Linked DNA regions of Homo sapiens. The protein of the gene in region 7 interacts with the protein of the main gene of each other region in a biochemical or structural test. Each region holds a gene or a part of one and is shown on either strand. Other genes may lie near its edges.

Region 1 (3,500 bases), on a different chromosome or scaffold from region 7:
CTTCATAGGCCATGTGCAGAAAATGGCAGTGTTAACATGATCTAAGTGTGGAGTTTTTGTCCCTCTGACATGAAAAGGTCACTTTTTGGGCACTCATGCAGGTCCAGTTGAGGGATTGGTGGTCTCAACTGGGTAAGAGCTGTCCCCTAATTCCTGAAAAACAACTTTAAGCATCTGTTAATATAGTGACCCACAGTCAGAGATGTCATCTTTTTTTTCTTTCCTTTTTTTTTCTTTTGAGGCAGGGTCATGCTATGTTGCCCAGGCTGTTCACAGATGTTAACTTTTATTTATTTATTATTTATTATTATTATTATTTTTTGAGATGGAGTTTTCGATCTTGTTGCCCAGGCTGGAGTGCAATGGCATGGTCTCAGCTCACTGCAACTGCCTCCCAGCTTCAAGCGATTCTCCTGCCTCAGCCTCCCAAGTAGCTGGGATTACAGGCACATACCACCACACCCAGCTAATTTTTGTATTTTTAGTAGAGACGGGGTTTCACCATGTTAGCCAGGCTGGTCTCAAACTCCTGACCTCAGGTGATCCACCTGCCTTGGCCTCCCAAAGTGCTGGGATTACAGATGTGAGCCACCATGCCTGGCCAACTTCTTTGTTTGTTTGTTTGAGATGGGGTCTCACTCTGTTGCCCAGGCTGGAGTGCAGTGGCATGTTCATGGCTCACTGCAGCTTCGAACTCCCGGGGATCAAGCAGTCCTGCCTCAGCCTCCTGAGTAGCTGGGACTACAGGCATGTGCCACCATGCCCTACTCAGAGTTTTTCATAAATGCCGTTTTAGTGTTAAATAAGTTTCCTTCTATTCCTAGTTTGCTGAATATGTGTGTATGTGTGTGTTTATTGTGGTAAAATACACATAACATAAAATTCTATCATTTTAACCCTTTAAAAATGTCCAGATCAGTGTAATTAAGTACATTTACGTTGTTGTACAACTGTCACCATGATCTGTCTTCAGAACTTTTTCATCCCAAAGTGAAATGCTGTACCTATTAAACACTAACTTCCCATCTCCCCCCACTCCAGCCTCTGGCAACCACCATTCTACTTTCTGTGTCTATGAATTTGACTACTCTAAAAACCTCATATACGTGGGATCATATATTTGTCCTTTTGTGACTGACTTATTCACTTAGCATAATGTCTTTGAACTTTTGCTGAGTGTTTTTTTTTTTAATCTTAAAAGGGTATTGAATTTTTTCAAATATCTTTTCTGTGTCTGTTGAGATGATAATGTGGTGTATCACATTGATTGATTTCCTTATGTTGAACCACTCTTGCATTCCTGGGATAAATGTTGGTCATGGTATATAATCTTTTTAATGTACTGTTGGATCCAGTTTGCAGTTTGCTGTTATTTTCTTGAGGATTTTTATTTCTATATTCATATGGGATATTGGTTTATAGTTTTCTTATCATGTCTTTTTTTTAAGAGACCAAGTCTCCCTATGTTGCCCAGGCTGGTCTTGAACTCCTGGACTCAAGGGATCTTCCTGCCTCAGCCTCCCAAAGTGCTAGGATTACAGGTGTGAGCCACCATGCCCAGCCTGAATTTTATCGTATCTTTTTCTGGCTTTGGTGTCAGGGTGATGTTGGCCTCATAGAACGTTAGGAAGTGTTCCATTCTTTTCTGTTTTTTGAAGGAGTTCGAGTAGGATTGGTGTTAATTCTTTGAATATTTGGTAGAATTTGCCAATGCAGCCATGTGATACTGGACTTTTCTTTGTTGGGAGGTTTTTGTTTATCAATTCAATCTCTTATTATAGGTTTGTTGAGACTTTTAATTTTTTCTGAGTCAGTTTTGGTACTTTAATGTTTCTAAAAATTTGTCTCTTTTATCTAAATTATCTAATATGCTGGTTTAGTCATTCACAGTATTCTCTTATAATCCTTTCATTTATATAAAATTAGTAGTAATATCCCCAGCTTCATTTCTGATTTTATTTATTTTCATTTCATCTTCTTTCTTTTTCTCCCAGTCAGTCTGACAAGAGTTTGTTAATTACTTTTTTTTTTTTTTTTTCGAGATGGAGTCTTGCTGTGTCACCCAGGCTGGAGTGCAGTGGCATGATCTCAGCTCACTGCAACCTCCACCTCCCAGGTTCAAGCAATTCTCCTGCCTCAGCCTCTCCAGTAGCTGGGATTACAGGTGCCTGCCACCGTGCCCAGCTAATTTTTGTATTTTTAGTAGAGACAGGGTTTTACCATGTTGACCAGGCTGGTCTTGAACTCCTGACCTTGTGATCTGCCCGCCTCGGCCTCCCAAAGTGCTGGGATTACAGGCGTGAGCCACCATACCCGGCCAAGAGTTTGTAAATTCTGTTGATCTTTTTAAATAACAAATTTTTGGTTTCGTTGATTCTACTATTTTTATTCTTCTTGGTTTTTGTGGTTGTTGTTGTTTGTTTGTTTTTGAGAAATGGGGCCGTGCTCTGTTACCCAGGCTGGAATGATGCAGTGGTGTGATCATATGCACTGCAACCTCAAACTGCTGGGCTCAAGTGATCCTCCTACCTCAGCCTCCTGAGTAACTGAGACTACAGGCATGCATCACCAAACCCAGCTAATTTTTTTTTTAATTTCATAGAGATGGGGTCTCACTGTCTTGCCCAGGCCTTGAACTCCTGGCCTCAAGCGATCCTCCTGCCTCAGCCTCCCAAAGCGCTGGGATTACAGGTGTGAGGTACTGCACCTGCCTTATTTTTATTCTTTATTTCACTTATCTCTGCTCTAAACATTGTTATTCCCTCCCTTTGGTTGGGTCCAGTTTGTGCTTCTTTTTCTAGTTCCTTAAGGTCTGAAGTTAGAGTATTGACTTAAGGTCTTTCTTTTTTTTATCTCTGTTTTTATTTTTATTTTTTGTAGAGATGGGGGTTTCACTATGGTGCCCAGGCTTGTCTTGAGCTCATGGGCTCAAGCGATTCTCCCACCTCAGCTTCCCAAAGTGTTGGGATTAAAGGCATGAGCCACCATACCCTGCCTTCTTTCTAATATTTTATTATTGTTATTATTATTTATTTATTTATTTTTTGAGACAGAGTCTCGCTCTGTTGCCTGGGCTGGAGTACAGTGGCGTGATCTTGGCTCACTGCAACCTCTGCCTCCCAAGTTCAAGCGATTCTCCTGCCTCAGCCTCCCAAGTAGCTGGGATTACAGACATACACCACCACACCCAGCTAATTTTTGTATTTTTAGTAGAGACAGGGTTTTGCCACATTGGTCAGGCTGGTCTTGAACTCCCAACTTCAGGTGATCTGTCCGCCTTGGCCTCCCAAAGTGCTGGGATTATAGGCGTGAGCCACCGCGCCCGGCCTTATTACTATTATTTTTTAAGACAGGGTCTTGCTCTGTTGCCCAGGCTGGGGTGCAGTGGCACCATCACAGCTTTCACTTTCCAGATTCAGGCAATCCTCCCACCTCAGTCTCCCAAGTAGCTGGGACCATAGGCTCGTGCCACCATGCCTAGCTAATTTTTGTATTTTTTG
Region 2 (3,500 bases), on a different chromosome or scaffold from region 7:
CCCGGGGAGCTACGAAACACACTGATGCCTGAGTCCCCCACCTAGAATTGGTTGAACTGGTCTAGGAGAGCCTGGGTATCAGAACTGTATAAGTTCCCCAAGTAATTCCAATGCGGGACCATGGCTTTACTACTACAGGCTTGGTTGATGGCCAATTCCCAATCTCCAGCCTCTTCCTGTCATGTTGGAGTCAACTATCCTATGTCCCTCTCTCCATCTTCCCAAGATTTAAAAACCTTTCTCATGGCTTCCCAAATTGGAAAACTCTCTGGAATCCAGCGTGGATGAGCAACTGAACAAAATGGCTTTGGGAGGGAATGATGGGAGCTGGGGCCTACCAGTCACCTGCTCTTCAGCCTAATACTGCTCTGTGGGAAAACTTGGTCCATTTCCCCCAGGGCTCCTCAACACACACCCCTGGGTCAGACGTTCTGGGAGGGAATAGGCAGCATTCCTCACTCTACAGAACACCCAATGAGCATCCTGTCTTTCATGGCTAATACCAAAGTTGACAATCAATGAGGGTCAATGCTTTCCTGTCATTACAGAAACTTCCCATCACCAGAATCCCTTCATGGGAGGGATGGATGCCTGTTGAAACTCACTGACCTATTGGACTGACGCTGGGGTGGTATCTTCATCAGAGCTATTGTAAGTCATCCAAAAGGCTTCTGACGAAAGAACAATTTTTAAAAAGTCCCTCTTTTCAATCAAGCCAATGTCCTATTTTATTTCTAAAAGTTTTGGGACTCGTGCTGTTATCAAGTACAATGAAAATGGCTTTATAAATAGCTGTTTTGACATTGTGATAGAAGGCTTGAATTCGGAGGAAAGATGTCGCTGGAGCTAGTCCTGAGTTCCGACTGTCCCTGTGGTGGGAATCCAGTCTGGGAAAGCAGGACTGTTTTAGCAAACGTGTACTCGTTCTATAAAAATGGAATCTGTTCTGCAGGTTACCGTCCCTCCCCGCCCAAGCATCCCCTCTGTCCTGTCTCTCTGCTGCTGGGACCCAGGGCTTTTTCAGCTGCAGAACCCACTGGACTTCCAGGAATCAAGGAAAAAGTGGAAATGTCCAACTGTGTTGTCTCTAAATGGTTCCATTGTCTGGGAACTGAAACCCTCCATGCTTCACCCTGAACTGTTATTTCTAGAGGAAGCAGGGAGCCTCTGGCTCTTCTAAAAATTGCCAGTGGGAGCTCTGGCCTCACCCACAGGCGGAGCTTGGTGAAGTCAGGATGAATGATGCCGTCACAGGTTCATGGTTCATGGAAGGAAAGGTAACCAACCTTGTCCTGTCTAGGATGCCAGATGAGAAAGAGTATCCCAACGTGACGGTGACATTGAGGCTTGACGTTATTTATGGGTGAGCAAGAATGTTCATTAGATGTAGACTCTCAAAGGGCTAAAAAAAACCATGCTCTCACTTCTAGACAAGTTTGCAACAACCTCTAAGCTGGCACTCCATAACAAGACTGTTCCACAATACTACAAACAAAATAGCATGTAGCTTGTTCCCTCCTCCCTCCCCCCCAAACCCTCCCCACAGAAAACGTGTCTCCCTCCAAAGCCATTCTCCATTTAGAAAGGCCCAACTAAGGATTCAAAATGGCACCCACGTGCCGACGATAGATTCAAAATGGCGCCTGCGTGCCCATGACGCACGTCACGGGAGCCAGCGGCCAGCCCCCTCACCAGCAGTCAGCCCCAACCCCACCCTGGCGCTTTGATTTCCAGTTTGGGAAATTCATACCAATGGAATCCGATGTAAGCAATCCACCATCAGCTCACTGATGCTCTCTTGCCCTTCCACACTTCGAGAAGACCTGAAATGTGGTGTCCATTCCCCTCTTTATTCAAAAGAGGACCTTCAAAAATATTCACCTAACTAGGAATTTAAAGAACACAAGAAATTGTTGGTATATTTCACTTCAGGTAACTGCCCTAAAATTAAAACCTCCAATTTATGCAAAAAAAGAAAAGATGGTGCTTCAATTTACAAAAGGATTCATTTCAGGGTTATCTCTAGTTGTCTGGTTTCCCCAATGGCTGGCCTTGCCAAATGATTTGCTGTAGGAAAATTTGAACTGCACCCAATTTTCCAGGAGCACCTTAGTGTAATATGGCATATTGATCACAGACGATAGACAAGTCTTAGGCAGGTTTATGCAAAAAATGCTGCAACCACCCAGTGATCATCGGAGGGAAAAAAGCTTGACTTACTGTGGTCTAAAATTGCTTCGGTGGCCTACATGCCCATGAACCAGCTTCAAAAGCAATTCACATTGGTCATGATGACACACACCTGCAGTCCCAGCTACTCAGGAGGCCGAGGTGGGAGGATCTCTTGAGCCCAAGAGCTTGAGATGAGCCTTGGCAACATAGTGAGATGCTGTCTTTTTTTTTCTTTTCTTTTTTTTTAAAAAAGCAATTCAAACCTAATTCTTCCCTTTCTTCCTCCTCCCACCCAACCCGCCTGCTTCTCAAGATGAGCCTTGGCAACATAGTGAGATGCTGTCTTTTTCTTTTCTTTTTTTTTTAAAAAGCAATTCAAACCTAATTCTTCCCTTTCTTCCTCCTCCCACCCAACCCGCCTGCTTCTCAGTGGCAACAAACTCAAGTTGCTCATCATGCTACCTTGCACATATCTACAAGACACCATTTACTTCCTAACTGCCTTGACATCTGCATGCTACGGTGCTCAGCTGTTTGACATCAACATAAATATATTCTAAATCCACTGTAACTAGACTTTTTGTACTTTCATACTCTGAAGAAAGTCTTAATAAATACTTTATTATTAAGCATAATTATTCATCTGTTGGTGACTGAGAAATGAAAACCACACCTTCGAAGATTTCTTTTAAAAAATGAAATTCCTTTAACTACAACAACGACAACAAAGGGACAAGTACACAGAACCAGGCACTTCTGGGAAACTTGTCTTCTCATCCCTTTGCCCTCCCTTCCTCCCCCTTTAGTAAAGCTGGTTGGGCACATTTGCTAGGATCTGTGGGTTTCATCACTTCAAGCCTTACTGCTTAAAAAAATGAGGTAAGAAATTTCTATCGGAAAAGTGAAACTGACACATAAACCAAACCAAGGTCTTCCCTGGCTGCTGCGGCAGCCGTTATTGCTCTAAGTTGGAGTGTTCTGTTTGCTTTTATTATGTATTCGGAGTCCTTATTGCCATTCTGGCTGGCCTCGTCGTTGGCCAAGGAGAAATGATGGGGAAGGAGCTCGGTCGCCTGCTCCCAGCTGCTCAGTCCCAACTTTCTGCCCGCATGCGGCCCGTCCTACCCTTGCTGGGAGCCAGCTCTGGTTCTGGGGCCCCCAGGGCGGCTCTAACAGCTGGGAGAGGTGGTGATGGGGCTGTGCAGGTAGGGCAGGCTGCTGGGGGCCGAGTGCACGCCCACGGAGACCGGAAAGCTGAAGACGAACTGCGAGGTGGGGGTGGCGGGGGTCTTGCCCCGCTCCCGCAGGGGTCCCGAGGGGCTAGCAGC
Region 3 (2,576 bases), on a different chromosome or scaffold from region 7:
AAGTCGTAGGCGTCGTTGAGTGACAGGTTCATCTTCTGCATCAGATAGGCCACAGTGACCGTCACTGAGCGGCTGATGCCTGCCAGGCAGTGCACCAGGACACCACACTTCTTGGAGCGGGCTTCGTCTGAAACACATTGGCATGGGTCAGGGAGGTGCCTCCTTCAAGGAGCCTTCCCACATGGGTGGGCAGGTGGGGCTGGGGCACAGAGGGCAGCATGGTGGCTGGCTGGTCTTGCCCGACCCCTGAGGGACCTGGCCAAGCCCAGTGTGGGTAGGGCAGCAACTTGGAATAGAGGTCAACAGCACTGCTGTGGAGAGGGCTCTGCACACTTTAGCCCCAAGGCACTGGACACCCGTGTCTGTTTCCTCATCTATAAAATGGGCCTATTTATGCACAGTGGTCTCATAAGGACCTGAGCCAAGTGAGGGGTCAACAAACATGAACTACTGTAATGCCTGTGATCATGGCTAGTCCTACCACTGCCATGTGCGTTAACGACTGCTGTCACGGGTGTCACCTGCATCCTCTTGGGTCATCTGCACCATGGCCAGTAAGCCCATTTTATCAACGAGGAAACAGACACAGAGACAAAGTGGCAAGCCCAAGGCCACACAGAAGCTCCTCCTAGCTCAGCGCCCGCTGCTGCCAGGCCATGACCTGGGACTGGGGGCTGGGCTGGTTCTCTTGGAGCCGCTCCCATGGGTTGTCCCTGAGAGTCTTCTAGGAAAGTGGCCTGAGGGAGGCTCCTCTGGAAGGAAGTAGGTGGCCTGGCCCTGCATTTCGCTCTGCCATCTGCCCAGCTAGTCCCCAAGGCCTTAACTCCAGCTCCTAAGACACATGGACTGGGATGATGGCCACACTATCACTTGTGATGGGGCTTCATAAGTGAGGTGTGCTTAAATGGGCCCCACCCCTGCCACTTGCTAGACCTTCCTCAGGAGGCCCATGTGTCAGTGATATCTCCTACCACAGCTGACTGGATGGGGCCAACCTTCCTGTCCCCTTTCCCCTCCAACCCTCCCAGCTTCCCCCAGTGCCACCCTCAGACTCCTCTGTCTGACACATAGAAGCTCAATAAATACTGGCCGAGCTACTGAACAACTCAGTCCTGTAATCTCTCCTGGACCCCGGGGCAGCTGCCTCTCTGTGTGCCACAGCTGTGCCAGGGACATAGATTCACAAGAGGCAGCCATGGGGTCCTTGATGTCCCCACCACCCTGACTCTGAACCCTCCAGGAGCCAGGCACACAGCTAGCACGCAATCAATGCCTTCCTACAAGATGACATACGGGTTCACCCACTGTTCTTCGTTGCCTTTGTCCTGACAGAGCTTCCTCTCCCATCCCCTCCCAACCAAGGAGTAAAGCATACAGTAGGTGCTTCCTCCAGACTCAGGGACTGACAGGGGGCCCCATGGCTAAGGCACTGGGGCAGGATCATCTGGCAAGGAGACAGACATTGCAGCTTCATGAGGAGCTGTGTGGTCAGACCTCGAGATTGGGGGTGGGAAAAGGGGGTGCTGGGACCAGCCTCCAGTGGTGACACCAGGATGTGAGGAACGCCTGGCCTCCAAACCCACCTCCAGGTGATCCAAAGACAGTCTGTTTCTGCTGGCTTTATTTTTGGCCTTTTCAGGGTGTAGCTGGTGACTGATCCTGTCCCACTGACTCCTAAGGGATGCCTGGGCCTCAATTCCTTCACTTGTCAAATGAGGAAAAAGGTCCCCCTACCCAGACGGGGAGGAGCTTTCAGGAAGGATAAAGGTACCCACTAGCCAGGCCCAGCCTGGCGAAGCCTGCTTCCCTCTCTCTATTCCCCTCCCTCGTTGGGGGAGTTCAAATGCTGAGGCAGCACCCCTAGCCCTCTTGACCCAGGGGGTGGTGGGCAGGGCTGAGAAGCTCCAGGCAGCCCCAGTTGCAGCCCCTCCCCCAGGCCTCAGCTTCCTTCCTTCCTCCCAGCCAGGCACCTACTTTTGGTTCCCAGTAAGCGGATGAGGCGGGGAAGCCTCCCACTTCCTGTTGTTAAAGCTAGCCCAGCCCAGCCGACACCAAAACGCCCTCCACTGGACACAGCCACCATCGGGAAAAGACAGCCCGGGCCACCCCCACACCTTGCCACTGGAGGCTGGGCAGAAACATTGGGTCACCAGGCTCAGAGATAGAGCGTTTACATTCATCCTGAGCCCTCGTGCCCCTTCCTTGCACCCTGGGCCAGGGGAGATGACCTGTGGTCTCAGCCTCCAGCTGGCCAAGGAGAAAGCAGTGGGGACCCGAGTCTGCTGAGGCTGGGGATACAGGGACTCGAAGGGCACTAAGCCAGACAGCAGGACACACTGCTCTGGGGAAGGCCTTTCTCCACTCCCCCACCTTCTCTTGCACTCCTCCCTACACTCCAAGCAAGCCCTACAGGCTGCAGAGAGCATCTGGAGGCTGACTGAGCTAGCAGTCACCACATTTCAATAGCTGCCTGTTTGGGGTGTGCCTCTGGCTCCAGGGCTACCTTTCAGCCCTCTTAGGTCCACATTAAAGCCCAAAGAGGCACTATGACAACCCCATCCTGGAGAGACACGTGT
Region 4 (3,500 bases), on a different chromosome or scaffold from region 7:
ATGGGCAAAAACTGGAAGCATTCCCTTTGAAAACTGGCACAAGACAGGGATGCCCTCTCTCACCGCTCCTATTCAACATAGTGTTGGAAGTTCTGGCCAGGGCAATCAGGCAGGAGAAGGAAATAAAGGGTATTCAATTAGGAAAAGAGGAAGTCAAATTGTCCCTGTTTGCAGACGACATGATTGTTTATCTAGAAAACCCCATCGTCTCAGCCCAAAATCTCCTTAAGCTGATAAGCAACTTCAGCAAAGTCTCAGGACGGAATCATTTTTTAAAAAAATTGGCCGGGCGCGGTGGCTCACGCCTGTAATCCCAGCACTTTGGGAGGCCAAGGCGGGTGGATCACCTGAGGTCAGGAGTTCGAGACCAGCCTGGCCAACATGGTGAAACCCCGTCACTAAAAAAAAAAAAGCCGAGTGTGGTGGCATGCGCTTGTAATCCCAGCCACTCGAGAGGCTGAGGCAAGAGAATCGCTTGAACCCGGGAGGTGGAGGTTGCATTGAGCCGAGATCACGCCACTGCACTCCAGCCTGGGCTACAAAAGCGAAACTCCGTCACACACACACAAAAAACAATCAACCAACCAAACAAAAAACACCTATGCCTCTTCCGGTAGTTGATCTGCTGAAGAATCCTCCTCTAACAGCATTTAGTGCTTAACGCACAAGTGAGCTGGGCACGGTGGCTTACGACTGTAATTCCAGCACTGTGGGAGGCCGAGGAGGAGGATCATTTGTGGCCAGGAGTTCAAGGCCAGCCTGGGCAACATAGTGAGACCCAGTCTACAAAAAGAAAAAAAAAATAGCCGGCCATCGTGGCGCGTGCCTATGGTCCCAACTTACTTGGGAAGGATGAAGGAGGGAATCTTGAGCCTATGAGGTGGAGGCTGCAGTGAGCCATGATTGCTCCACTGTACTCCAGCCTGGGGATAGAGCTAAAGACTGTCTCTAAAAGAAAATCAACAAATGGCTCACTATTGTTCATTGTTTCAAATACAAACTTCCAAACCTGGATGTCTATTTTTAGTAACCTCATTTTTTGATATTTCTGCTAAGCAAATATGCCAATAAATAGCTTGTTTATTTTTACCTCTGCACCTTCCCAGGAGAATTTCTTATTAGAGGGAAGCTGTCTACAAAACTCCCTTCCTCACAGCCTTGCACTTTGACCCAGTAATACTGCTTCCAGAAATCTAGGCCGGACATGCATAAAAATTTATGTTCTACATAGCAATTATTGATAAAAGTGGAACACTGGAAACAAAGATCTAAATATCTTGCAATATGGGATTGTTAAATAAATTATGGTCCATGTAGTATAGACACAGAAATACCAGGTAGCTATTAAAATGGTGTTGTAGTCTTCAATTTTTTTTTAAGGTACCTATTCCTGGTATAGGTTTGTTGTAGCCTTCTATTTTTATACCATAGGAAATTGTGCAAACTACATTGTCAAGTTAAAAAAATAAAGATAATCATTTCTTCTGGTGACATGTAATAGATGCAAAAACGATGTGGTTTCATTTTTTCATTAGAAAGTATAATAGGCGTGGTAGCTCACACCTGTAATCCCAGTACTTTGAGAGGCTGAGGCGGGCAGCTCGCTTGACCACAGGAATTTGAGATCAGCCTGGGCAATGTGACGAAACCCCATCTCTACGAAAAATACAAAAACAAAATTGAGCTGGGCCTGTAGTCTTGGCTACCCAGGATGCTGAGGTGGAAGGATCACCTGAGTCTGGTCAAGGCTGCAGTGAGCCATGATTGCGCCACTGCACTTCATCCAGCCTGGGCGAGAATGAGACCCCGTCTCAAAGAAAAAAAAAAAAAGTATAATAATACCCAGCTCATTACATCATTAAACAAAGTGGGGAGGGCTTGCATGAACTGGTGACAAAGGTGTAGCTTCTACAAAGGATTATGATGAATACAGCTATAGCACCTGAGGTCCAGAAAAACGAACAAAAAACTTCTGTTAAACTTATCTCCTTAACAATTCATTTTTTGATTCTCTTTTCTCTTCTTCTTACAAATTAGTTTAAACCTGAATAAAATCTTTTAATTCAAGCTTTTGTAATATGGAACTTGTACATTATTGAGTAAAACATTTAAAAGTCATGGTAAATGTTAAAATAACTGAGGTTTTATGACAAAATTGAGTCCTTCACATCACATGGGAAAGAATATAAGATTAATCACTGGATTCATTGATTAATTTTTTTGCGTATAAAAGATTTTTTTTTTTTTTTTTTGAGATGGAGTCTTGCTCTGTCACCCAGGCTGGAGTGCAGTGGACCGATCTCGGCTCACTGCAAGCTCCGCCTCCCGGGTTCATGCTATTCTCCTGCCTCAGCCTCCCGAGTACCTGGGACTACAGGCGCCCGCCACCATGCCCGGCTAATTTTTTGTATTTTTCTTAGTAGAGACGGGGTTTCACCATGTTAGCCAGGATGGTCTCGATCTCCTGACCTCATGATCTGACCACCTAGGCCTCCCAAAGTGCTGGGATTACAGGTGTGAGCCACCACGCCTGGCAGCATATAAAAGATTTTTAAGCCTATGAACTTGATTATCTCACTATGACCTGTAATGTTTTTCAAAATGTGTAAGAGCATTTATATCTTAGGGTATACAGTGTGTCTATTGAAATAAATAAAATGGCATATCTTTAAAAATAATTATGGTGAAGTCATTTTGATAGACTAAATTTTGCCTATGCTGTCTTGATTTTGAAATTTGGTACGTTGCGTGGTTACAGTTTGTGAAGCACTTTTCATTTGGGTAACCTCTACTCTCTCCAGTTGCACTTAAAGTCACTTAAAGCCACAGAGAGGTTTTTCTACCTTCAGCACCCATTTTAGGACAATTTCTGGTAATTGCTAAGTAAATGTCAGCTAGTTGACTTCCTGCCTGACCTGTCTTGGCCTGTTTCCTGCTCATTAGCATCTCCACTAGAGGGCAGGCTGGGCTGCTGAGGAGAGAAGGAAAGGAGTGTTTTCATTCTCTAGCTAACCCTGTCCTCCTCTCCTCTACTGCAGCTCCCAGCTTGGTGACCACACAGAGCTCCTGGGACAGTTCCGTGTTTGGAGTGACTGATGCTCATACATGTGTTTGAACATTGCCTTATAGTATTCTCTGTGTCGATGGAAATGGAGAGTGTGCTAATAATTTACCTAGGGACTTAAAATGTGTTGACTAGAAAGCCACTAAGTAACTATGGGATGTTCTAATACTCTCATGTCTTGTGTCTGTAAGAATCAGATTTTTCTGTGTGTAGGGTAGGAGCTATAGATGTAATATAAGTAAATACCCTTTAGTGGCCCGGGGTAGTGGCTCACACCTGTAATCCCAGCACTTTGAGAGGCTGAGGCAGGTGGATTGCTTGAAACCAGGAGTTCAAGACCAGCCTGGGCAACATAGTGAGACCCCATCTCTAAAAAAAAAAAAAAAATTAGCCAGGTGTGGTGGCTTACACCTGTAGCTACTCGGGAGGCTGAGGC
Region 5 (3,500 bases), on a different chromosome or scaffold from region 7:
CAGTTAAGTGCTTCTTTACTTCCCATCCAGTGCCTTGCACAGGGCTTGGTACATGGTTTGGTCCAAAATATTTGTTGAATAAATTTGCAGATAGCCCACGTGTGTAGGAGAGGGAGAGAAGGTTCTTGAAAAATGGAGATTGGAGGAATCTAGGATGGGGAGGGAGATATGGGAAGGGCCCAGACAGAGGCAGGAGGGTTCCAACTTGTTCCTCTTCCCTGCAGCCCAGTGTTTCCCGGGCTCTTTGAGTTCTGCTCGCGTTACACAGGCGCATCTCTGCAAGGAGCAACCCAGCTGAACAACAAGGTGACATAGTCCCGAGTCCTGTTCTTCCTTTCCTCTGGATCCCTGGACTCGGGATTTAACCCTGATCCTGGGCTCCCAGCTTGAGGGGTGGGCAGGAAGGACTGTGACTTAGGTGTTTGTCTTTCAGATCTGTGATATTGCCATTAACTGGGCTGGTGGTCTGCACCATGCCAAGAAGTTTGAGGTGAGTGAGGAGGTGATGGGAAAGACAGTGGCCATCCTAGGGTAGGTGTTTAGGATGATGGTGGGGGGCAGCTGGGAGGGGAATTGCTCTTCTCTTTATGAGACCACTGTCTTGCCATAGGCCTCTGGCTTCTGCTATGTCAACGACATTGTGATTGGCATCCTGGAGCTGCTCAAGTAAGTAGCCCAGGAGGAGATGGGGGCAGTTACGGGATTCTTGGCTGAGGAGGTCTCTCAGTCTCAACCCTGACCTTGACCTCCCTCCTCCCTGATTAGCTTCTCCCAAGTTCTTGATGCTTTATTCAGGCTGCCTCTTCCACTGCTGCAGATTCCCTACTGCCTGCTCACATTTCAGCCTTCTCTGCATATCCCTCTCCTGTCCCTGCCTCTAGCCTCTAGGCTGGAGCCCCCAGTTGCCTTTAGGGAACTGGTGACATTAAGTTTCAGGTGACCAGGGCAGAAGCAGACTCTTCACAATTCGAGACCCGGTGTTTGAGAGGAGTGGGTTGGGGGGTTCACTTCTAGCTCAGACCCTGGCTTTGGCTTCCCTCTAGGTACCACCCTCGGGTGCTCTACATTGACATTGACATCCACCATGGTGACGGGGTTCAAGAAGCTTTCTACCTCACTGACCGGGTCATGACGGTGTCCTTCCACAAATACGGAAATTACTTCTTCCCTGGCACAGGTATGGGAATAGGGATTACTTTCCCCTTTGCACCCTTCAGCTCTTTACTATGAGTGCCTCCTTCTCAGCCTTCTAGTCTCATCTCAGGTGTCCCCTCCTCAGAGAAGCCTTTCCTTACCACTCCAGTTATCATAATCACCTCCTTCCCCATTCCTCTGTTACATCAGCCTCATTGTTTCCCTCAGAACACTCACTGCTATTTGTGTTTATTGTGGTTTTTTGTTTTGTTTTGTTTACTGCCTCCCTCCTCCTCATGGCTATTCCCTAAGAATATAAGCGTGGTGGGATATCGTAAATTTCATTAGTTCCATTCGTTGCTGCATCCCTACTGCCTAGTACACAGTTGGCTCAGAGTGGATCCCCCAAAACTATTTGCCCAATGAATGCAAGCTGCAAGAGATTTAGTGGCTCTAGGGAGTTTATGGTGAAGCTACATAGATGGAATGAGAGGCTCCCAGAGTGCAGATTGGGGCTGAAACAGCTGGGTTGTGGGTGCTTCCCATGTGTGGCTACCACCACCCACTTCCCTACAGGTGACATGTATGAAGTCGGGGCAGAGAGTGGCCGCTACTACTGTCTGAACGTGCCCCTGCGGGATGGCATTGATGACCAGAGTAAGTACCGAAGTCTTCCCTCTGTTCCCTAGGCCCCTTCTTTTTCTCCTTGAAATAACCTCTTCTGCCTGGTATTGTCTGCTGTTGGGCCAGTTGTCCTTAAGGATGAATGGCCTTCAGAGGGACCATGAATCTCTGGAAATTGTATGCAACATATCATGTGTATGTGCATTTTTCTGGGAAAAGTCATTGGCTTTCATCAGTCACTCATAGCAGTCTGGGATCCCTTCCAGAAGTTTCAGACCAGTGATTTGATTCTTTTGGGTGGCCCCTTTCCTGGGCTACATGCTCGCTCAACCCCCTTTTTCCTTTTGTTCCCTGTCTCCCCATCCCCTTGGGGTGCCAGGTGCCCATCTTTGGCCCTCTCCCAGGTTACAAGCACCTTTTCCAGCCGGTTATCAACCAGGTAGTGGACTTCTACCAACCCACGTGCATTGTGCTCCAGGTAATACTGTCAGTTCCTCCTCAGGAGTGTTCTGCCTGGGCTTGGGGAAAGAGAGCAAGGGAAGAGGAGGTTCTTTAGGTTGGTGGTGGAAGGGGTATCTGTGATGTTCTGATCAGTTCTGATCACTGCACTTTCCTGGGGTTTTGCTTTTTGCAGTGTGGAGCTGACTCTCTGGGCTGTGATCGATTGGGCTGCTTTAACCTCAGCATCCGAGGGCATGGGTGAGACTTGCTCTCCTTCTTCTCCCCAAGGTTTTTAAGTGGCCTTGGACTTCAGTACGTGGGTGGGGGTAGTTGGGGAATGGGCCTCACCTCTTCTTGGAAATCAAAAATAGCTACAAATTGTACTTGAACTAGAAATGTCATCTTGAACAGGGTTCCCTAGATGGTCATTCATTCACGATATATTTTTATTAAGCACCTGTTATGTTCCAGGCATCATACCACATCATGGGGATGGAATAAGGAGTCTCCCATGGAGTTTACAGTTTAGGAAACAGACAAAAAATAAATAATCAAATGAAATAAATAGATTCTTATAAATTCTGTGAAAGAAAAAAAGAAAGCTGAGACACAGGATACAATGGGGGACCTACTTGAGATAGCATGGTTTCGGAAAGTTTTTCTGAGGAAGTAAAATTTGAGTTGAGACCTGGAGACTAAGAAGGAGTGAGTCATAAGAGGAGCAGAGAGAAGCCTGACCCAAGCATGGACAAAGGCCCACAAAAGGCTCTGAGGGCTGGGCCCAGTGGCACACACCTATAATCCCAACACTTCCAGAGGCCAAGGTGGGAGAATCGCCTGAGGCTAGGAGTTTGAGGCCAGCCTGGGCAACATAGTGAGAGCCATCTCTACAGAAAATAAAAAACAAAATCAGCTGGGCATGATGGTGCATGCCTATAGTCCTAGCTACTCAGGAAGCTGAGGCAGGAGGATCACTTGAGCCTAGGAGTTTGAGGTTACAGTGAACTATGATTGTGCCACTGGACTTCAGTCTGTTGAGGTGAGGTCCGAGAAGCTGGCCATGGTGAGATTGTGCAGAGCCTTTAAACCCTGGTAAGGAGTTTGAATTATATTCCAAAGATGATGGGAAACCATTGAAGGATTTTAAGCAGGAAAGTGACATGATCCAATTTGTGTTTGAAAGTGACAATTCTGACTGCTGAATAGAGAAAGGTTTGGGTAGGGGGGATGGAGATGGAAGTAGAAAGACCAGTTAGGAAGCCATGGTGTTGGTTAGGTGCCCAGACTAAGGTGGAGGGGGT
Region 6 (3,500 bases), on a different chromosome or scaffold from region 7:
AACAAAAGATAACGTAGATAAGCAAAAAGATGAAAAATAGTATCAATAAGAATTCCATCATTCTGTAATAACCATCATTAAAAATTGGCTGGGTGTGGTGGCTCACACCTGTAATCCCAGCACTTTGGGAGGCCGAGGCAGGTGGATCACCTGAGGTCAGGAGTTCGAGACCAGCCTGGTCAACATGGTGAAACCCCATCTCTACTAAAAATACATAAATTAGCCGAAAATGGTGTCAGGCGCCTGTAATCCCAGCTACTCAGGAGGCTGAGGCAGGAGAATCACTTGACAGGTCAGGGGCAGAGGTTGCAGTGAGCTGAGATTGTGCCACTTCACTCCAGCCTGGGAAAAAGAGCAAAACTCAGTCTCAAAAAAAAAAAAAATTAGTGGTCAATTGTAAGAACCCCAGTCTTTTTTCTGTGCACATGTCTATGGCGAAATCGAACCATATTGTACATTTTATTTTATAGTCAGTTTTATTTTCTTTATATATCAAGGCTATCTTCTTGTGAGTGGGTGTGGGGTATTTTTTTTTTTTTTTGGTTTGTTGTTGTCTGAGACGGAGTCTCGCTCTGTCCCCTAGGCTGGAGTGCAGTGGTGCAATCACAGCTCACTGCAGCCTGGACCACCCGAGTTTAAGGGATCCTCTTACCTCAGCCCCGCTAGGAGCTGAGACTACAGGAGCATGCCAACATGCAGCGATAATTTTTGTATATTTTTTGTATAGAGATGAGATTTCACTGTGTTGACCAAGCTGGTCTCAAACTCCTGGGCTCAAGCAAGCTGCTCACCTTGACCTCCCAAAGTGCTGGGATCACAGATGTGAGCCACCATGCCCAGCCCTTCATGTGTGTGTGTGTGTGTGTGTGTGTGTGTGTGTGTGTGTGTGTGTGTAGAGAGAGAGACAGAGACAGAGACAGACAGAGTCTTGCTCTGTCACCAGGCTGGCATGCGGTGGCACGATCTCTGCTCACTGCAACCTCTGCCTCCCAGGTTCAAGCAATTCTCATGCCTCAGCCTCCAGAGTAGCTGGGATTACAGGCACGCACCACCACACCCAGCTAATTTTTTGTCGTCTTAGTAGAAACGGGGTTTCACCATGTTGGCCAGGTTGGTCTTGAACTCCTGACCTCAAATGATCCTTCTGCCTCAGCCTCCCAAAGTGCTGGGATCACAGGCATGAGCCACCATGCCAGCCCTTTATATATTTTTAAGTAGTCTGATACAACACCATTTTGAATGACCACATGCTATTCCATAGGGAAAGTGCCATGGCTGATTTGACCATTCTCCTGTTCTTGGCCATTTTAAGCTGCTTCTAGTTGTTCATAGTTATAAATGTGAGGTAGGCTTTAAAGGACCTGGATACAGGTACTGCAAGTAGCAGTGGACAGGTGGGAAATCTTCAAAGAGTTCCAAGCAGCTAGAGGCAGAGACCAGATGGTGGCTGGCCGGGGGATGGGGGCTGGGATAGGCAAAGGGAACCAAGAACACCAGGCCAGAGAGGAGAGTTTGGGATGGGCGGGAGCAAGTGGAGCCTTAAGAGAATGCCGTGGGAAAGTCAGAGGCTTCAGCCACAAGTGGGAGGAGAAATTTTCAAGGAACTGAATCAGCTAGACAAGGCAGAGAGAAGAATAAGGAAGCTACTATAAAAAAAACAAGAAAGTTCAGGAAGAAAGGGTGGAGGTTGGCCAAGGGCTGTGTGAAGGAAGAGGAGAACCAACCAGAGATATTAAAGAAATGAAGATGACAGGATGGGAGCTTCCAGGTGTTTGGCATGTGATTAAGCATTGTGCATTTTCAAGTATAAATTTTTAATTTTTTTTCAGTCACCTTGATTAAGGATGGCAAATGCCAACGGAAATAAAAAATTTAAAATGTATTTTTCAAGTTTCACAAAACTAAGTAAGTGTAAAAGAAATTCAAGTAAGCTTTCATTTATGGCTTTTTTTCGTGTGTGTGTGTGTGTGTGTGTGTGTGTGTGTGTGTGTGATGGGATCTCACTGTGTCTCCCAGGAATAGTGCAGTGGCATGACCATACCTCACTGCAACCTTGGCCTCCCAGGTTCAAGCCATTCTCCTGCCTCAGCCTCCTGAGTAGCTGGGACTACAGGTGCACACCACCACATTGCCTAATTTTTTTTATTTTTTGTAGAAACAGGATCTTACTATGTTGCCCAGGCTGGTCTTAAACTCCTGGGCTCAATCGATCCTCCTGCCTCTACCTCCTCAAGTACTGGGATTACAGGCTAGAGCCACTGCACTCAGCTGGCTTTTTTTATATGTTTGTAGTACTTGTACTTTCACAGTTATTAAAACTTAAAACTGCTCTAGGACTTTTGGGATACTCTTTAGTAGCTTTTAATTCTCACATACCCCTCTGCAGCAGGTGCTATTGCTGTCCTCTTTTTGCAGCGGAGGAGACGGAGTGAGGGATAGAGAAGCAGAGCCCACATGCAGGCAGCTCCTTGCCTCTGCTTCTTGCCCCCACATGGCTCTGCAGACTTAGGGGAAAAGATGAATTCAGGTTGGGGACTTGTTGGGACAAATTAGATCAAAGAATTACTGGGATGTCAAGGTGGGGATATCCAACCAGAAAATAGAAAACTCAGTCTGAAACTTGGAATAGAGATTTGAGTAGTTGAAGCCTTGGAGGTAGATGAGGTCACTAAAGTAGTGTGTGAAAACAGATTAAATGGGTGGAAATTCCATGAGTCGGAGTCTACTCTAACACCCTCAGACAAAGCCCGTCATCTCTTCCCCTCAGGCTGCAAATATTCTCTCCTAGGGCACTCCCCACAGCCATCCCTCTCCTGCAGACCCTCTTGTTATCCTGGGAAGGGGATAGGGTCCCATGTGAGCCAACCTGGACAGCAGTGCATATGATCATATACAGTCTTCCATCACAACATCCTCAGGCCATCTCTCCCAGGCTCTGCTACTGCCTCCCGTCTTCTTTCCTGGGCACTGGGACTCCAGAATGTCTGTGCCAAAGGAACACAGGTGTGTCTGCATCAAAGGGAGGAAGGCTGTCAAATTTTTTTTAAATTAAAATTGTCAAATTTTTTTAAAAAATTTTTTTCTTATCTGCAGTGCTCAGCACCGAGGCCAGGCCCTATGCTGAGCAGTGCAGATTTAAAAAAAAAAAAAAAAAGACAAATGTCTGTCCCTGCCCTCAAGGAACTCCCAGACTGAGGCAGAAACAGACACACAAGGTGAACACTTCAGTGTGCTATGGTAAGGGCTGTAGAATGAGGAGCCACATGGAGGAGAGGGACCTAGCCCTGGGTGACGGGCAGACAGGCAGGGAGGGCTGGTCAGTACTGGAGATGGCACTACCCGCTGTGGCCTGGTGCTCAGGGGGACAAAGCCCAACTGTGTTGTGCAGGGCTGGGCACCTCAAACCCCTGCCAGACACATCACATCTCTCCTGTCCTTCTCTCTCCCCCTCAGGTTCAGGTGGGTCCCAGTCACAGATGCCTATTGGCAGATTCTCTTCT
Region 7 (3,500 bases):
ATTATCTAGTTCAAGGGTCTGTGAGAAGCTCTCTTTGAGCCTTAAGTACTACAGGATGTTGGGAAAAGATGTTGTGTTCTTTCTTTCCTTTTTTTTTTGAGACAGAGTCTCGCTCTGTCGTCCAGGTTGGAGTGCAGTGGTGCGATCTCGGCTCATTGCAAGCTCCACCTCCCGGCTTTAAGTGATTCTTCTGCCTCAGCCTCCTGAGTAGCTGGGAATACAAGTGTGTGCCACCACACCTGGCTAATTTTTTGTATCTTTAGTAAAGACGGGGTTTCACCGTGTTAGCCAGGATGGTCTCGATCTCCTGACCTCGTGACCTGCCCGCCTCGGCCTCCCAAAGTGCTGGGATTACAGGCATGAGCCACTGCACCCAGCCCGTCGTGTTCTTTCTTGTCGTCATTCTGTTCTGAAGTTGTTTCATTTTATAAGCCTTAAGTTTTGAACAGGGCAGTACTCACTGACACCCTCTTAACAGACTCAGAAAGATGTGTTAATTCATTTTTTAGGGGGAGAGGGGAGATATTTGTGTTCCAGCAGCTTATTTAGGTCACATACCTCCTGATAGGTCTTCCCATTCTTTGAAATCATGACATTGAAACCTCCAAAAGAACTAGATACCACTTTGCTAATGAGTTGAAAGGAGGCTTTGGTCCATCTGGTGCTCAGCACTGTACTTCTCAGCATTTAAACGTGCCTTACAGCCCATTGCCAAACAGTGATGTCATATAATGAGGCTCCCCTTGCTGGGCAGATGGAGCACAGTGTTACTATCACAAGCTCGTGCCCAGCATATTAACTGAGCAGGAACATGCCAGAAATATAAATATTAACAGCTCTGTTTTGTCAGCCACTGACTTTGTTTCACTGCTATTCCCAAAACATGAATTAAAACTTAAATTACCCCTTGATGTTAGTGTATGTATTTATCTGTCAAGATTTTTTTTTTTTAAGAGATGGCATCTCACTCTGTCACCCAGGTTAGAGTACAGTGGCACAGTCACGGTTCATGATAACCTCGAACTCTTGTGTTTAAGTGATCCTTCCTCTTCCCTATCCCAAGTAGCTGAGACAACAGGCACATAATGCCATGCCCAGCTAATAAGATCTTTGAGGAATTTGTTCTTGCCCCTGACCTTATTGGTTATAAGAACATGGTCCTTTTTACCCTAAGGGTAACAGAGACTTGTCGTATAATCTGTGTTCAATTATAAAATCAACAGCTGATAAGGTTTCTTTTTCTAAGAAGAGAAGACCATCAGAAGAATATATATATATATAATCCAGGCATTCACCTAGTACTGTAAAGTGTAAACTTATGAACTTGAATTGACACATGAATATTTACTTTGTTTCTGTATCCCCTTGAAGCCCATATTTCTCCAGTGGATTACTCTGGAATTCAAGCTGTAGGACGGGTGTTTTACAGCCTCCAATATACACAGCAGTAGATCTCTATAGGAAGCTGTCCTCTTCACTACTCACCCCCACACCCTCCACATTTAAGGAGTAATTTGCAAAGTCTCAAAAGCCTTTTTCACCACAGTGATAACTGGTTATATGGCAGTATTTATTCTCCCAAGTGCCACCATGCTGAAACACAAAAATACTCATTTGAAATATAGAGTTAGACAAATTACCATTTTGTAACCCCTTATGAAATAATTGCTTTTGGGAAGGAAACCCAGTGAATGCAGAAAGCCATAAGTGAAAAGAATGGATATTTACTTGGTACCAAAATATCCCGCAGATTACTTGCTTTGGTCAAAGGGGAAACATCTTAACCCAGTGATCAATTTTAGCTCATTAGTAGTGGGACAGATGGCCTTAATGCACTGTCACGTGCACAGCATCACCTGTATTTTTGCTGAAAATGTTTAACCTGATTCTTACCAAAATTTTTGACCTAACTTCCGGTTTTTGGGAAGTACAGGGGATAGTGGAAAGCAGGGTATAGACACATGACAGCAAAAGAAGCAAAATCAGACACATCCCGAGAAACGGTCATTCTCAGGACAATCAGAGGGTCTCTTTAGATCAAAATCAGGAAAGAACAGGGCTTAGAAGTAAGAAGATTATTCTAGACTAAGAGAGACTAAAGAAAACCAGTCAGTTGCAGTGCATGGCCCCTAATTGAATCCTGGTTTCAACAAACTAGTTCTAAAAGACAACGTTGGAATAATTGGAGAAATCTTAACATGAACTGGATTTTAGATGATATTTAGAAATTATTTGTCAGAGATAATAACAGTATTATGATTATATAGGAAGATGTCTTCGTGTTGAAATATTTGGGGAGGGTAAAGTGTCATGTCTATAATTTTATTTTAAAACAGTTCAGAAAAAAATACATATAAATACAGAAATATAAAAATGTTAATTGTTGAATATGCTAGGCATATGAGTGTTCACTTTATCATAGTTTTTACTTTTCTGTTTCTGTATATTTGAAATTTTTCATAGTGAAATTTTTAAAAATAAAATTCCCTTTGATTTTAATACCATGTCTCACCCTCATCACCATGTAAAACCCCCAGTTTATTCACTGTTTGAAGATCTGTTGATGAATATTTGATGTTAGTAAATAAACAGCTTAGGGGGACAAAAAAAAAACAGCCCTGCCTACCTATTGTAGGTTACTTCAGCTGTAGGCTTTGTTTTATACAGTTTGACTACACTGGTAGCAGTTTGACATTGACGGTCCACAAAAGCCTGTTCAAACAGAATCCCAGTCATTTAAAAAAATTCTTCTTTAGTAACATATTCTTTAAAAATACAAAATACAGGAGGAGGGTGAGGGTTGAGAGATAACCTATCGGGTACAATGTTCACTATTTGGTTAATGGGCACGCTAGAAGCCCAGTCCCCATCAGTCCGTGGTGAGACCCATGTAACAAATGTGCACATGTACCCCCAAATCAAAAATAAAATAAAAAAATTTTAAAACATAGAAAATACAGATACACACACACACACACACACACATACACACATAAAGGAGAAGAGGGCTAATATATCCTAGAGTAGGTATTTTGGAGGAGAGTTCTTTGTTTGGATATGAAGGGTCAAAACTATGTTTGCTCAATAAGGCATACTTTTTTGTAACATGTTAAAAACTCTTTTCCTTCCTGTCTATGGTACTGATAGCTGTCGACTTGCTGGAGAAGATGCTTGTATTGGACTCAGATAAGAGAATTACAGCGGCCCAAGCCCTTGCACATGCCTACTTTGCTCAGTACCACGATCCTGATGATGAACCAGTGGCCGATCCTTATGATCAGTCCTTTGAAAGCAGGGACCTCCTTATAGATGAGTGGAAAAGTAAGTCCTAAGGGTAGGATTAACATCTTGAACCACTAACCAAAAGCGGTGGGAAAAATAAAAACTGAATGGTCATAACCAACTTGCTAAAGCTTGTAGATGAGGTCTCTAATGCAGAATGAATATGTTCTCTGGTGGAAACTGTTGTAGACAGTGATACTCTCTGGACCTTTGAGATA

Evidence for each region.
Region 1: of the proteins of MAPK14 (region 7) and TFCP2, one has a biochemical effect on the other in vitro, tested with the Homo sapiens proteins (one study listed by BioGRID).
Region 2: the proteins of MAPK14 (region 7) and DUSP4 form a complex in vitro, tested with the Homo sapiens proteins (one study listed by BioGRID).
Region 3: of the proteins of MAPK14 (region 7) and DUSP7, one has a biochemical effect on the other in vitro, tested with the Homo sapiens proteins (one study listed by IntAct).
Region 4: of the proteins of MAPK14 (region 7) and NRL, one has a biochemical effect on the other in vitro, tested with the Homo sapiens proteins (one study listed by BioGRID).
Region 5: of the proteins of MAPK14 (region 7) and HDAC3, one has a biochemical effect on the other in vitro, tested with the Homo sapiens proteins (one study listed by BioGRID).
Region 6: of the proteins of MAPK14 (region 7) and NLRP1, one has a biochemical effect on the other in vitro, tested with the Homo sapiens proteins (one study listed by BioGRID).

What each region holds. Positions count from the first base shown.
Region 1 is NC_000012.12:51,163,136-51,166,635, reverse strand, and holds part of TFCP2 (alpha-globin transcription factor CP2), read left to right. Parts: intron 1-3,500.
Region 2 is NC_000008.11:29,333,685-29,337,184, forward strand, and holds part of DUSP4 (dual specificity protein phosphatase 4), read right to left. Parts: coding exon 3,342-3,500; 3' UTR 1-3,341. UniProt on the Homo sapiens protein: Regulates mitogenic signal transduction by dephosphorylating both Thr and Tyr residues on MAP kinases ERK1 and ERK2.
Region 3 is NC_000003.12:52,050,996-52,053,571, forward strand, and holds part of DUSP7 (dual specificity protein phosphatase 7), read right to left. Parts: intron 128-2,576; coding exon 1-127. UniProt on the Homo sapiens protein: Dual specificity protein phosphatase. Shows high activity towards MAPK1/ERK2. Also has lower activity towards MAPK14 and MAPK8. In arrested oocytes, plays a role in meiotic resumption.
Region 4 is NC_000014.9:24,108,450-24,111,949, reverse strand, and holds part of NRL (neural retina-specific leucine zipper protein), read left to right. Parts: intron 1-3,500. UniProt on the Homo sapiens protein: Acts as a transcriptional activator which regulates the expression of several rod-specific genes, including RHO and PDE6B. Also functions as a transcriptional coactivator, stimulating transcription mediated by the transcription factor CRX and NR2E3.
Region 5 is NC_000005.10:141,626,850-141,630,349, reverse strand, and holds part of HDAC3 (histone deacetylase 3), read left to right. Parts: intron 1-224; coding exon 225-306; intron 307-433; coding exon 434-490; intron 491-610; coding exon 611-666; intron 667-1,043; coding exon 1,044-1,177; intron 1,178-1,710; coding exon 1,711-1,791; intron 1,792-2,137; exon of another isoform or gene 2,138-2,162; coding exon 2,163-2,236; intron 2,237-2,392; coding exon 2,393-2,457; intron 2,458-3,500. UniProt on the Homo sapiens protein: Histone deacetylase that catalyzes the deacetylation of lysine residues on the N-terminal part of the core histones (H2A, H2B, H3 and H4), and some other non-histone substrates.
Region 6 is NC_000017.11:5,553,510-5,557,009, reverse strand, and holds part of NLRP1 (NACHT, LRR and PYD domains-containing protein 1), read left to right. Parts: intron 1-2,411; exon of another isoform or gene 2,412-2,504; intron 2,505-2,866; exon of another isoform or gene 2,867-3,009; intron 3,010-3,453; coding exon 3,454-3,500.
Region 7 is NC_000006.12:36,104,308-36,107,807, forward strand, and holds part of MAPK14 (mitogen-activated protein kinase 14), read left to right. Parts: intron 1-3,147; coding exon 3,148-3,321; intron 3,322-3,500. UniProt on the Homo sapiens protein: Serine/threonine kinase which acts as an essential component of the MAP kinase signal transduction pathway.